Linked DNA regions of Homo sapiens. The protein of the gene in region 2 interacts with the protein of the main gene of each other region in a pairwise test. Each region holds a gene or a part of one and is shown on either strand. Other genes may lie near its edges.

Region 1 (7,810 bases), on a different chromosome or scaffold from region 2:
TTTTTAGTTAGTAATAGTGGAGCCAGGATTCAAACCTAAGTTTGCCTGATAAAAAGCAGTCTTCCTAATCTGTACACTAATACTTTCAAACACAGGTGAGGAAAAGTCGTCATTGTAACCTGTTTTTTCTTGGACCTGCCCTCTAGAGATTCAGAGAGAATAGGTGGAGCCCAAGAAACTGCAATTTAAACAAGTCAGGTGACTGGGATATAGCTACCGTTGAACTACACTTTGAGAAGTAGACACTTCACTGTGCAGCTTTTTATCAAATAACCAATGTAACATCGTTGACTCGCTTAAGGGGAAGTTTAGAAATCCATTTGTCTTTTCTTCTGAATCTTGTACCTTTTTGAGTTAAACTTGAGCTCCTGATAATAAAGTGATGACTCTAATAGTGTTAATCTTGTGTCACAGATGAAGACTAAGGGAACAGAACCACTTTTATATTTAGATTTCTTTTACCTGAAGGAATCTAAATGAAATGTAGACTTGTTCGTGTTCTACAGGGCTTTCACTTTGTGAATAGAGCAGTAAGTTTGTGTGCTTTTCAGTTATTCTGTTATGTGAGTTAGTTCTTCTACTTGTCAGAAAATATGTATTGTGGAAGAAGAAGAATTTTATGAATCTAGAATCAAGTTTATAGCAGTATACTCTGAATAAATAACTGCACAGTTCCTGTCAAATGTGAGGGGAACCCATTTGACATCTTTACAGAACTAGTCAAAAGATTAGAAAGGGAGTACACATTATTTTTTCCCACTTTAAAATTGAAGAATGATATGATGTATGGTTATAATGCATTTCACTAATTATTGCTTTAATTGTGTAAAGGCATTTCTTTTGAAGAAGCTCCTGTTTTCTTCGGAGAAGTCTTCTTGGCGGGATTGTTCAGGTATGATAGCTGTCTTTTAAAACTTTTGCTTCCTCCTCTGTTTTAATAGAGATGATCTAAAATTATCTGAGAAAGTCAAGTATCAGTGGGAATTTTTTTTCCTGAGGTTTCCTTTTAAAATGTTTTAGAAAGTTTCATGAACAGTGACTCCATATTTCCAAATTTGGCTTTCTAACCAGGGGTTATAAGACATGATGGTATAACTAAGGGAAAAACGTTTGGCCTCTTGGTAAAACACGGTGCATTTCCTAGAACTGTTAGGTGGCAGCATGCCATAAAGAACAGTCTTTTTTTTTTTTTTTTTTTTGTAGTCTTATTTAGCTGTGGGCAAGACCTCAGAATTATCATTATATTCCTGCATGTTTTAGTATAATGCCTTACACAATGCAAATACTGCAAATAATTTTGGATGAAATTGCAAATGAAGCTGTCATAGCTTCTGTAACATGAGCTTCTGTACCCAGAGAGATGTGTGGTGCCACCTTATAATAACAAGAATTTGCATTCCACGTGACAGTTTACAAAGATCTTTCCTTCACTTACACAATTTCCTGTGAACCTCACAGTAAATTCTGGAAGAAGTTAGGACACATTACAATCCCAGTTTTGTATCTAAGGATGTAACAGCTTACATTCCAAACCATGACTATAGAATCTACTAATGATTTTGAATTTAAGAGTTAAGGGATCACTTCCATAAGTTTTAAATTAATAGGTGAAATACAAAACAAATTTTAGTAGAGAAGAAACTATTTGAGATACTATTTTTGAAATGAACTTTTAATAAAATTTATACTATTTCTTATACTATATTCACTATATTCACTTTGATAAAACATTTGTAAAGCATTGTCATAAGTGTCATAAATACTGTGGTGATTAGAAAGTGAACAGCATAGTTCCTGCAGTTAAAGAACTGTTAATCCATTAGGAGAGACAGAAACCTCCTTGTATCATAAAATTTTTGAAAGTTTCAGAAAGTAATACTACTTCTTGAGAGTAATACTGCTTGAAAAGAGTGTGGCTAAGGTTCATAAAGAGATGGTCTGAGCATTTGCGCCATTTTCTATAAAATTCTAATGCTCAAATCTGTATTCTAACCACTGGCTTCTGCTGATGTAATGGACTTTGGTAACATATGTGCTGACGGTCTCTCATCTCATTATTCTTATCCCTTTGGGACGGGGTGATCATAGACGTTAGATTAATTCAGATGTGAGGGAAAAAAAATAGAGGTTTCAACAGGCCTTTACATTGTGCTCAGTTCTTCAGTAGAGGAAACCTCTTGGCTTAAATGCTGCAGTTGCTAAAGTTTTAAGAAAGTGATGATCAGTGTCACATTATGATCTTTCATAATGTTTAGTTCTGCATTTTTCAGTATTCTTTTTCTACTTGGTGGTGTTATTTGGATGGCTTTATTTAAAGTGGTGATATTTTAATCCACAAACACATTGTTTTTCTAAGACATAATTTAAAATCTATTTAGAGATTTTTCCCCCATTTTTAAAATGCTTGATTTTCATCATTAACCCATTCTTACTATTGTTATTCATGACAGAATTTTTTTTTTTCCAGAGGAAACCATTATAACTTATGCTTTGGTTATTTTTAGAGGAAGAGCAGAAGGAACTCCTTTGTCATACCTTGTGTGATATTTTAGAAAGTGCTTGTTGTGACCACTCTGGATCATACTGCTTGGTTTCATGGTTAAGAGGAAAGACAACTGAGGAAACTGCTAGTATTTCTGGGAGTCCTGCAGAGTCTAGTTGCCAAGTGGAACATTCTTGTAAGATATATTTTTATTTCCTGAAGTTTTTTTCTTGTTCCTTTGTTTTAATGAATCTATTGAATATTTTGAAGAAAAAATTACTTAAAATTTTCATAACATGTATTCTTTTCCAGCTTAAGCTTAATTACTGAGCCTCACTATTTTTTATTTCCATATCATTTATTTTAACTACTTAGAAGATACTACATTTTTGCAAAAAAAAATGCATCTCTTAAACTTTTAAAAATGTTCTGGTTAACTTCTGCTTGATAATAATCTCTTTTGAGCTTTAGAACTCTTATTTAGAAATAATGATATGCTTCAGTTTCAGATGCCTTAATGTTTTGCTTTGGTATTGCAAAAACGGATTTTTTTGGACATCAGAAGATTTCATAAAGTTATCTTTACTTGCTTCCCAGAGCAAAGATGGGGACATTTCTCCTCATTGCAAGCTGTTTCTTTTCTTTCCGAATTATTTGGATATTTTTATACATATAGATTATTTTAAGGCAATTTTAATTATGCCTTAAGTTTTTCATACCTTGAAGATAAGTTAAATAATAGCTGTTTACGTTAAATAATAGCTATTCTCATTATTCATAAAAATTATATATTCTGTGGTTTTTAACTTTTGAAAATTGTTATGTAATTGACCCGAAAGCTGCCAGTGTGAAATGGAGACAGCTAGTGGTACGGAAGCTAGTTAAGAGTTGCTTTTCTGATTTGCTTTTCAGGAATAATCTTGCTAGTTGATGGTTTTTTATAATTGGTAGTCCCAAGTGCTTATGTTAAATAAGTGACTTATTCTACCCACAGAGCATCACATTAACTATCATCTTTGTGGAAAGTTTTCGTAAAGAGATTACGTACCTGAAAGTACACTTCAATTGTATGGGATACACATTTTGCTTTCCATATAGTATTATCTATAAGGTGCTGTTGCCTCCCTGGACTAAAATGCCTCTGTGTTGTCAGTGTCTTTTTTCTCCTACCTCTGCAGTTAAAATGCCTTAAGCCTGGCAAATTCTAATAGTAGTAACATTTGCAAGGAATAATTTTGAACATTTGAACAGCTATATGATGCTTCCTTTTGAAGCCTTTGAAATATGGCCTTTCAAAAAGAACTTAACATATTTTAGAGTTTATAATGACATTTGAAGACAACAAGTGGAAAACAGTCACAAGGATGCTAGTCCAAAGTGTCACTAAGATTGGTTTTAACATATTCTCCAGGTTTTACTGTGTGGGTGTTAGCACACTTAATAGGTTCATTTAGGATATTAAAATTTTGAAAGAGGAATTGTTGATCTTTTGAAAAGGTATTTTAAAGATTTTGTGCTTAAAGCCAGTCTGTATATTGATGTGAGAAAATAGTAAGATCTTTTTATATAACATTTTCCATTAGTATCTTAACAGTATACTGAGTGCATACTATGAAATATGCTATGCAGTTCTGTGGTGATACGTCACGTTGCTATAGGTTAAAGGGCCTTATAATGCATTCCCTTTGGTACTTCAGTAACTAATTTAGATGGGCATATTATATTGAATTACCCTCCAGAAAACATTTTAGTAATTTTTCCAGTTTACTTTGTATCTCATTTTAAAAGTTGCCATGAAGTAAACCATATTTTAAATTTTTTAAATAATGTATACATTTGAAATACTTTGTTAACTGAAAATTTGAGAATTTACCTTAGTGACAAATGAACTGTATTTATATTACAATTTTTATTCCGTGTAACAATCTATTTTACCTGTTCTTTCCTTTATTCCCAGCTTTGTTCTTTTTCTTGTGTTTTATATTTTTTCACCATCCCTGCCTGCTAAGCTTTTTATTTTGCTTGCCTCTTTTCTCTAAATTATTATCTTTATGTCTACTCTTGTAGTATACCCAGTAAAACTATTTAGATAATCTAATGTTGCAGAACAAGCAGTATAATTTGGAAAAGATTAGGTAGAATTTTCATTTTCTGAAAGTTTTAATGTAAAGTGTTTTCCCCTCTTGTTAATATTACTTTCTCTACAAACATTAATTTCATTGGCTTATGTGGTGTGTATAGTTTTGGCTTGTTGGTAATGCACAGTTGTTCGCAGTAGTGAATACTCAGGTTCAATTTCAGTTTGTTTCCCACATAAACCAAGAAATAACTTAATACATTTGGACTGCTAAAGATTTTAAAACGAAATATGAAACACTCACAACTAGGCTTTGGAAAGCTAGCATAATGTGACATTTTAAATTGTAAATAAAAATCTAAAATTTTGACTTCATAATGAATCAATTTTCTTAACTCACCAGTGAGAATTTATATTTGATAGTAGTAAGATTTGCTTTATGAAATATATGTGAAGTTATTCATTGTGATAAATAACTCCCTGGAGCCAAGACTATCTGTGCTCAAGTCTCATCTCTGCTGTTTAATCCTATGTACTCTTGAGAGGATTTTTCTGTGTGCCTCAGGTTCCTCTTCTGTAAAATGGAGCTAAGAGGGTTTATATGAGGATTAAATGAGGTAAGACATGTAGGGCATTTAGAAAAGGGCCTGGCACTTAGTAAAGTGCTCAATAAACATTACCTCTGATTAAAATGCTTTCTTCTATTTCCTTTGATTAATAAACATAATCTAAATAAGTTACTGAAAACTTTTTAACAGTTATACAAATAAATGAGGAAACAAACTTAAAGCTGTCATTGAACCTGTGTAGTTTGAAAGTGTTATGCCTTTTTATACATGTTTGTTTAATAATTAAGCCTTAAACCTAAAGATTTTATATTATAAAAAGGAAGGTTAGCTCTGATGATATTACTTGGATTTATATAATCTGAAAGATTATTTAAAAGTGCAGGACACATTATGATATGTGAGGCACTGATTATCAGTAATTTTTCATACTTTATAACTGCCGTAGCATAGCTGAACTGAAATGTTATTTAATCACCCTTCTATATTCTCAGTATTATATCGATTTTAGTTATATTCATAATAAAGATGTTGAAATATAAATTCATGTTATAATGAAGTTGAAAATAAACTGAGAATTTTAAGGGAGTAAGGAAATAGGGAAAGTTTTGATTGCTTGAAAGTATTTACAGCCTGCTGTGTGTATCTTGTGTCATTTATTTGCCATGTGTAGTGCTGAAAAGTGTCTTTTATGTATAGCTGCCTTGGCTGTCGAAGAGCTTGGCTTTGAGCGATTTCATGCATTAATTCAGTAAGTAACATTGGAACATTTAAAATACTTACTCTGTGGACACATTGCCACTTTAAGTCTGTTCATACTGTGGAAAGGTTCTTAGTTTTACATAGAAATGCGCTACTTAAACATAAATTTTAAATCCATTGCTTCAGGATTAATTTGCCTTTAAATTAAAATAGTTTGTAAATGTATAAACTATGCTGAGTCCTTAATTAACTACCCAGATACGCTTTTCAAAAACATTAAAAAGCTTTTTCATCATTACAATGAAAAAAAATCATTTTAGCTTAATGTTTCTGTGACCTAAACAAATATGAAGATTTCTAGTAGGATAAATATTAGAATTATTTATTTGCCAGTATCTGTTTTCTATACCTTTTATTAAGAATACCGATATTTTTGTTAGAGCATTTAAACTTTTTATTACAAAGTAAAAGGTAAAGATGGCTGTTGATAGAATTATGGGTGGCATTTGGTTTAAAATGTAACATTAATTTCTTTTAAAAGAAGCCGCAAATGTGTAAGTTATCTTTGGCATTAAGATATTTGTTAAGTAATTTCTAGGATTTAAAAAGTGAAGTTTTCTTTGTGTTTACCCCCTCTTACAAGAAGGCCACTCTATTCTTTAAATAACTGTATATTATTGAAGAATTTACTGATGCCAGACAGTTCACCTAAGAGATGAAGAGGTTCCCTGCCAAGTAGGTGTTCTTTCTTAATGATAAATATCATATATAGTGATAGTTGTCAGAAATAGCTTTTGGTTTTAGTGGCTAAATTTGTAATGAAAAATTTAGAAACGTCCCAAAACTTTCCTGTTTGTATGTATATGTTTTAATGTATAAGAAAATTTAAAAATTTTCCCTTTTATGAATGTAGTTAATCTCATCATGATACCAATACTTAATTCTTTTTTTCCCCCAGAAAAAGATCGTTCAGAAGTTTACCAGAATTAAAAGATGCTGTCTTGGACCAGTATTCAATGTGGGGAAATAAATTTGGAGTATTGCTTTTTCTGTATTCTGTATTACTGACAAAGGTGTGTTCAAGAAGATGATTTTTCTGCCTTTGATTAATGTTGTTCAGTGCTGTTTTTCCTGCAGTGATGAGTAATTTTATTCCTGATGGTGTTTTTAAATTCTTAGAATAAAAATCTTTTACGTTGAAAATGAGTTAATTTCTGTTTCCTCAGCACTCACTCGTTGCTTAAGCAGTTTCACCTCTGCTCTTTTGGACTACAGAGATTATCAATAATGTTCTGGTTGTGAAATGCTGTCCTTTCTTCCAAATTGTGTTTCCTTTGATCCTTCCGTGTAGCACTTGACCCCTTAACCCCTTCTGGAAGCTGTTTTTGACCTTGATTCCATTTCTTGATTTTTTTTTTGAAAAATCACTGTGTGAGTTTTCTTTCTATAATGTCTCACGATTCTTATTTTGTTTTGTTTTCTTTGATAGCTTTGTTTCCTTCTTTATCTGTTACCTCCTGCTCTTTTCTCTCCTCCTCTAAATTTTTATAGTCCAGAAATTTTCTTCCCTGGATCCAGTATGCCTTTTATGGATATTTCATTTGCTCAGGTTACCTTTATATAGCTATTTAATAGTTCCAATATGTCCCCTTCTAGTCCTACTCTTTTTCCCCAAATACCAGTCTCATAGCTCTAGTAACGTGTTAGTCTCAGTTGACTATGCTATTAGATCTATCATGTCTGAAATCAAACTTCTTTTATTTGACAAATGTTTTTTGAGCGTTGATTGACTCTATGCTAGGGACTATGTCTGTATTAATAATATGGGATGCATTTTTAATGGTATCTATTTAGCATTGTAAAAAAATGGCACATTAATAATTCCATTATGGCAGTGTGTTTTGGCGTTTGGTCTTCTGTCTGAACCTATTAGATGGAATCAAGGGCATACTGTTTCTAGTAGGGACCATCTGACAGAGATAG
Region 2 (7,810 bases):
ATTTCATACAGAAAGATATCACTGTTGGCTTCTTCATGATGCAGAGTAATATGCACTGCAAAAAAAAAAAAAAAAAGAAAACATGCATAGACATGTGTAAATAAGAAAAAAATAATTGTTCTATCAAGAAGTTACTTTACCAGCAAATGTAAAGTCATAAAAAGTTTTGCTTGTAACTTCTAGTAAAGTATAGAGATGGTTAATATTATATACAAGACAAACAAAACCCTAACCACAGATATTATGTTTTTTTTTTGAAAACTTACATATTGAGAGCCAAATGTGAGACCAACTTCTTTCAATCCAATTTTCAAAGTAAAATTTACACATTATATGCCCTAAATGCAATGCTGTTATCAAGATCATTATTTAGAAATGTTTCTTATTCTTAAAAACTAGTGCTATCATTTTGGAAAGAATGTGAATGTGAAGATTTTCACTTAAGAACTGCTCTAGATATCTGGATAAAAATCCATATGTACATGTTATAAGTGATAATTTAAAGCAGATCTCTGCAAAATCTTTGACCAGTCTCTCTGAGGTCCTCCATGCTAGCTCTGGGCTGAAGCTGGATTTTAGACTTAACATGTAGCTCTTCATATTGCAATTAAACTGAACTTATTTTCATTTGTAATTTTACTTATATCCACAAAATGATTTCTTCCTTTTAGCTTTACCTATTAATTCAAATGTTTGCAATATATGAATAATATATACACATTAAAAAAATACAAAACCCCCAAGAATCTCCAGAAAACTATATTCCCCTAAAGAACAGTTCTTAGCAGTTCAAATGAATACACTAAAGAAATGCACAATTTTGTATTTAACATTAAATAATTCACCATTCTGAGCATTATTTCATTTGCTCCTTTTTAAAATTTTCTACACTACTCCTTTTTCCCGTTATATAACTCAGTACATATTATGCCAGAAAGTATTTCTTTTTCACTATCTTTCAAACTTAATGCTATAAATCTGACTGTAAATACAGACACGGATACCAAAGGGTTGCATGGTTATATTGTTCACTTATGTCTTAAAAGAAGTAAAATATTTGATAAAATATGAAATATTACCTATGTGATCCTAACAATAATAATATTTAGATAGTGGGAGTGCTGCCTGTGGGTGGAGACTTACCTCGGAATTGGTTGAGCCTGTCCCTCAGTCCAGTGATGGGCCCTGCACTGAGCTCTGGATTCAGAGGCTGGGGCATGTGCAGCAGCACGGACTCACTCCTGCAAGGAAAAACCTGCAGTTACAACATCTACAGCCATAAAATAAATAAAAATCACTATTTGTATATAAAAGACATTTCATGAGAATCCTTTGAATCTACACATTTGATAATTCAAAAATTAATCCTTCCTTTTGCAAATTAATTCTTTACAGTTTCTAAATTTTAAAGCATGATGGAAGAATCTAAGCCAGAATCCAATCTGATCCTTCTTTTTTTTTTGCTCCAAATGTGTAAGGTTCCTTAGCTTTATGGCCTTGAGAATATTTAGAAACGAAATTCTGAGTTCCACTTCTTGGCAGACTCCCCTGACATCTTTGTCTGAAATAGCGGGGTTTTGGGGAGACTGATGCATCCACTGCTTCCTTCTCAAGATAAAGAATGGAAACTTGTTCTCTCCCCTTTTAGCAAAGAACTTCCCTAGAGACTTATACAGTTCTAACACTCCACAGTTTTTTTCAATCTATTTTTCAGAACTGTTAACTGATATGTATATATGTATAAAAAACAAAACATCAACACTTTTTCGCTGCTAAAATACTTCCTCCTCTTCTCTCCTGCTTCCTCTGGTGACTTTCTCACCATTCACAAAACAAAACTCTTATCTTTCTCCTGTGCAGGCTTTCAAGCAATAAAACAAAATCAGGGGCCGGGCACGGTGGTTCACGCCTGTAATCCCAGCACTTTGGGAGGCCGAGGCGGGCGGATCACGGGGTCAGGAGATAGAGACCATCCTGGCTAACATGGTGAAACCCAGTCTCTACTAAAAATACAAAAAATTAGCCGGGTGTGGTGGCGGGCGCCTGTAGTCCCGGGTACTCGGGAGGCTGAGGCAGGGGAATGGTGTGAACCCGGGAGGCGGAGCTTGCAGTGAGCCGAGATGGCGCCATTGCACTCCAGCCTGGGCGACAGAGCCAGACAGCGTCTCAAAAAAAAACAAAACCAGGAATCAAATTGTTTGTTTTAGTTCACTCTTCTTTTATTCATTTATTTACTTCGTGGCCTTGTCTTTTAAGGTGTGGGAACGAAAGTAGATGCAAAAAAAAGTGGTATCAATATCTTAATTATTTATGCCATGACTTTAATAGAGCCTGCTTTGATAGTCGTGGAATCTTAAAGAACATATGCTAAAATCTAGGTACACACTCACCTGTGTAATATGTCTCCAAAAGCCTGAAAAAAAAAAAAAGAAGAAAGATTTAGTGCATTTCACAAGATGCATCTTTCACTAAGTTCAGTGTGAGATTTGTACTCAGTTTCTGAAGATATTATTTCCCTACCATCTTCTCTTCTGGAAAGTATTTTCTATTTCTTCTGTAATGAAAAACCCAGTCAGTTGTATTGTTATTAATTAACGTCCTGGGAAAGTCTGAGTCTTGAAGACATTCTCTAAAGAAGTGAAGGGAGAAGAGGCCCAGAAGGTCTATGGTCTGTGGTAACCATGAAAAACCTACTCAGTCATCTTTAACTGAACCTGTTACCCAAATGAGTGGACCCCAAAATAATGTTAATGCAAACCTAGATTCCCAAAACTTCTGATCTTGCCATGTTTACAAATTAACCTAAATGTAAATGAATCACTCACTATTCTATACATGTTTAACAACCCAAAGTATATTATTGAATTAGATGGGGAATATTTCTTGGGGCTGTTACCTTGACCATTCCACAAAGTTTTGTGGCTGGTGGATAAAGTAGGAGGGACCTTTGCCCTGGTAGAATCCCTTAGTGGGGCTATACTCTCCCAACAAAGTAGCATTAGTTATGTGAATGTGTTTTTGGAAACACATCATGGAAATAAAAGTAGGGAGATGGATTTCAGCCATGAGGAAAATACTTATACATGTGAATATTCAAAAACCTGAAACCACATGGCGAGTTTTTACCTGAAGTAGCTCCACATCTGGTTTATGGCACATTTCGTTCAGCTCCTCATACATTCCTCTTAAAATCTCCATCCTATGAGCCATTTTGGCTTTACTTAAATGAAGTCGATGAAAAATTTCTTTCCCCTTCTTTTTCAGCATCTCCAAATTATGTTTTTCTTCTTCATGATGAAATGCAGGCATCTTCTGATACTCAGCTCTAATTGCTTCTAGCCTTAAATTCACATAATCCTGCAGTGATAATGGGTTAGTCAAAAGAGAAATGTATATATCCATCTCCTATTAAATCTCACTGATTCCTTTTGTCTCTCGAACGTCCAATAGTTCAAACTTCTGTCTTGCCAGTTCTTAGAATCTACAAATTTTGTTCCTTTCCTTTTTTCTGCATAAAGATCAACATAGCTGTATCTGACCAATTACGTTAAATTTATTCAAGATAATGTGTTTTCTAAGATAGTTGAAAACAAAAAAACACAATTTGAATTTCTCTATTCCAACCCATATTTATGGCAAAGTAAGAACAGTTCATGCTTGAGAGTTGGAGTATAGGGCTATAGTTACTAGAAAGGAAACAATTCTTTCTATTTCTGAGATATGCAACAAGTTGCTTAAACTCATTATATGAAAATGACCTTAGACTAGCATGTCCAGCTAAGTGCATTTCGCTCAGCAAAACCTATCCTAATAAGGCTGCATTTATGATTTGGCCATCTTTGTCTCCCTGAATTCATTTCCTTCTATTCTTTTTCTAAGTCATCCCAGTCTGAAACATAGACTTCTTTGTGGTTCCTCCGGCCTCCAAATATACACAAACTCAAAATTACTGCATATGCTATTCTCTCCAACTAGAATTACATATATATGTATACAAACACACACACATACATACATACATACATACATACATATATACACACAACCACACACACATACATACATATACACACTCATGGTCCACATATATATCCACACACACATTTGTGTTCCCCCTCCTCTTGAAAACTTTGTTTCAATTTGAATTTTTCAGTGAGTCTTTTTTCTGACCACCCTATTTAAAACTCAAACACTAATCTCCAGTTTCTGGCCTCTATTGTCCTTTTCTACTTCCCTGCTTGATTATTCTCCAACAAAAACCTACCACACTCAAATACATCATGTATTGCATATATTTGTGTATTGACCATTTGACTCTCTTATTTGGATTGTATGATTTGTGAGGACAAAGGTGCTTCCTTTCTTCTTTACTAGTATATTTTCTAATTTAATATTCAACATAGACTAGGTTCTCATGAAATACTTTTCAACAAACTAATCTTAGCTATCATACCCTCAAAATATACATCCACAAAGAGAAAATTATTTTAATGTTTTTCTGAAGTCCTCAGAGTTCTCCTTATGTTTAGATACTAGTTCCCATATTTCTGGCATGTTTACATGTCTCCCTCAAGACACAAATCCGTATTTCTCACCGCTTTTCTCATCGTATGTTATGTATTATTCAATATTAATTAGTTGAGATTCTTAATTTCATGGTTTCCCTAGATTTGCCCTGTCACTTTTTCTGCCTCAAATTTTCCATGCAATTCCAAATACTACTTGCACACTAGCATTCAGATTAATGCTGACCGACACTCAGAAGTTTCAGTTGAGCATTCCATGACTGCCAAATAACCCTTTTGCCTAGCATTTATCCAACCAGCAAATATAGAATGCTTTGAGATGGCCCAGTTTCTTGGATCTGTTGGTGTATAACTATAGGTTTGTATGAAACAAACCAGCATGCTTTGGGTGACATCAGTAGTTTTCTTAGAAATCCTACCTAACAGGCATACTATTCTGTATAAAAATGAGGCCACTTTTTCTCAATGTTTTCTCTCGCCTTTTTTTTTTTACTGTATCCCAGAAACATTACAGTTTGATATCAAGTTCCTATTTTAAGAGTCACCCATTTGCCCACCATAAGTTCCTGGAGAAGGTAGAGTAGTACAGGACTAACCTTCCAGCATCTGGTTCTGGTGGTTTCCACATTCAGGTTTCTGTGATTTTCACAAGCTTTTTCCCACAAAGACTGCATTTTCTGTAAAAGCTTCTCCTGCAAAAGAGCCATAAATTGAAGCACCAGTGCAGACCATGACATAGGGAGGGGGCCCAGAATGAGAGACAAATAAGCCCCTAGTAAATGGCATTTCCTTTGTTTCCCTTCATGTTTGTCAAAGCCCAGAGGTTGGAAGCTAAGAAAGCCCAAACAGAGCTGCTTAAAGGGACTCAGAGTTGGCTTTACCTAATCTCCAAGAAAATAGACCCACAGGAATTTTATGCTTCCTTTACAGAAATCGATCTTCAGAGCCATCACTTACCCGGTGTTCCTCAGCAGCCCACTCAATGGGACGGTGTCTGTGATACCGGTGCTCCTGAGAGCTGGAGCACAGCAAACAGAGCAGGCTCCTGTCCACTTCACAGAATATCTTCTTTGTCTCCCTGTGAGTGCCACACATTTGCTCCTCAGAGCTCAGGAATAGCCAGAGACTGACTTTTCTGGCAAGAGAAGCCATCTTCTTCAAATGAATGTTGGTTTTGAGGTTTATCTGCTCTGTTGACTTTGTGCATTCAGAGCACTGGACAAGAAATGGGATGTCTTGCCAGTTGAGGTAGAAACAAGGCCTGCAAAAGCTGTGCCCACAGTCTATGGTGACCGGGTCTATGAAGTAGTTCATGCACAGGGGGCAGATGAGTTCCCCCTGAAAGACCTGTAAGATTCCAGAATTCATGTTTCTGAGGAACAAAGAGAAACATGTCATTTTGGGGCCTGGGTTGATGAAAAGCTTCTAAACATGTGGAGATATGTGATAGTTATATTTTCTTCTCTTGACAGTGTTCATTAAAGTACAACAAACTATTTCTTCTGTTACAAACTTAAAAATTTACACTTAGAGGGAGTCTCCTGGCTTTATAACAGATATTACTAACCAGAGGACTCACAGTCCCTTCTACTCCTAGTTCCTGTCTGTAGCATAATACAAACCTATTCAACTACCCATTTTCTGAACATAGATCTGGAAATTGGGTTTTGATTCTAAGTGGTCAGAATAAATCATAGTTGTCCCTATTCTTCTTTCAATAACTGATGAATGACTGTGAAAGAGTGGGAGGGAAAAAACTATCCAGGCCAAAGAAATATGAGAAGATGGCCAAAGAAATATGAGAAGATGGTTCTATGACATATTTTTATAGAGGGTCACAAAAGCCGGGCAGCAAACCACCATGGCACAAGTTTATCTACATAACAAGCCTGCAAGTCCTGCAGTTATCCCAGGACTTAAAATTAAATTAAATTAAAAACAAAGACCCAAATCAAAACAAAATTTAAAAAAAGCCAACCAACCAAATAAACAAAGAAAAAGACTGCAATTAAACCAATCAAGTTTCACTAGTAGGGAAAAGAAAAATTATTAAAGATATTGGGTCTTTTTATTTTCTTGCGGATTAAATTAACTTCCCCTAGGGCTGTGCAAGCTCTGAACTAACATATAGGAGGTTTTTGTTAAACTCAGAGAGGTGTAATTATATTTCCATAGTGTGATGGTGAATTTTAGGTATCAGTCTGACTGGATTAACCAACACCTAGGGAACTAGTGAAGCATTGTTTGTGGGTGAGTCTGTGAAGGTGTTTCTAGAGGAGAGAGACATGTGAGCTGGTGAGCTGAGTGGGAGCCTCATCTCTCAATGTGTGTGGGCACCATCCAATCAGCTGACACCTCAGATATAAAGAAAAAGGCAGAAAAAAGGCAACTTCCTCCGTCTCTCTCCTGAAACTTGTTCTGAAGCTTTCAGACTTGAGCTTAGCCAGGATACCGGTATTCTCAGGACACCAGCTTAGAGACAGCCTATATTGGAACTCTCTAGACTCCATAATCAAGCAAATTAATTTTCCTGATGAATTCTGTCCCATGTAGAATCATGTATAGCTTGTGGACAGATGTATGTTCTGAGAAATATGTCAGGTGTTTTTAGTTTTTTTTTTTGTTTTTTTTTTTGAGACAGAGTATCCTTCTGTCACGCAGGCTGAAATGCAGTGGCGTGATCTCGGCTCACTGTAACCTCCGCCTCCAGGTTCAGAGCGATTCTCCTGCATCAGGTTCCCAAGTACCTGGGATTACAGGAACGTGACACTAGGCCTGGCTAATTTTTGTATTTTTTTAGTAGAGATGGGGTTTTGCCATCTTGGCCAGGCTGCACTTGAACTTCTGGCCTCAAGTGATCTGCCTGCCTTGGCTTTGCAAAGTGCTGGGATTATAGGCACGCGCCACAGTGCCCAGCCAGGCGGTTTCATTGTTTTAATATGATAGAATATACCACACAAATCTAGATGGTATAGCCTACTACACCTATGGTATACACTATAGCCTATTGTTCCTACAATAGGCTACAAACCTGTACAGTATGTTCTGTACTGCATACTGTAGGCAACTGTAACACAATGATAACTATTTGTGTATCTAAACATAATTGAATACAGAAAGGGTACAGTAAACATATTGGTATTATAATCTTATGGGACCACCATATGTGGTCTGTGGCTGACTCAAATGGCCCATGAATGTATCTGCACACATATATGTATACATCCTATGGTTCTGTCTGGAGAACCCTGACTAATATAAAAACTATAATCTTTGTTTTGGCA

The links.
Region 1: the proteins of TRIM49C (region 2) and MINDY3 interact in binary tests that used the Homo sapiens proteins (3 or more experiments, as listed by UniProt).

Annotation. Positions count from the first base shown.
Region 1 is NC_000010.11:15,836,294-15,844,103, reverse strand, and holds part of MINDY3 (ubiquitin carboxyl-terminal hydrolase MINDY-3), read left to right. Parts: intron 1-831; coding exon 832-892; intron 893-2,504; coding exon 2,505-2,678; intron 2,679-5,824; coding exon 5,825-5,876; intron 5,877-6,470; exon of another isoform or gene 6,471-6,542; coding exon of another isoform or gene 6,543-6,562; intron 6,563-6,785; coding exon 6,786-6,900; intron 6,901-7,810. UniProt on the Homo sapiens protein: Hydrolase that can remove 'Lys-48'-linked conjugated ubiquitin from proteins.
Region 2 is NC_000011.10:90,033,296-90,041,105, reverse strand, and holds part of TRIM49C (tripartite motif-containing protein 49C), read right to left. Parts: intron 5,899-7,810; 5' UTR 5,895-5,898; coding exon 5,484-5,894; intron 5,219-5,483; coding exon 5,123-5,218; intron 3,358-5,122; coding exon 3,127-3,357; intron 2,414-3,126; coding exon 2,391-2,413; intron 1,242-2,390; coding exon 1,144-1,241; intron 56-1,143; coding exon 1-55.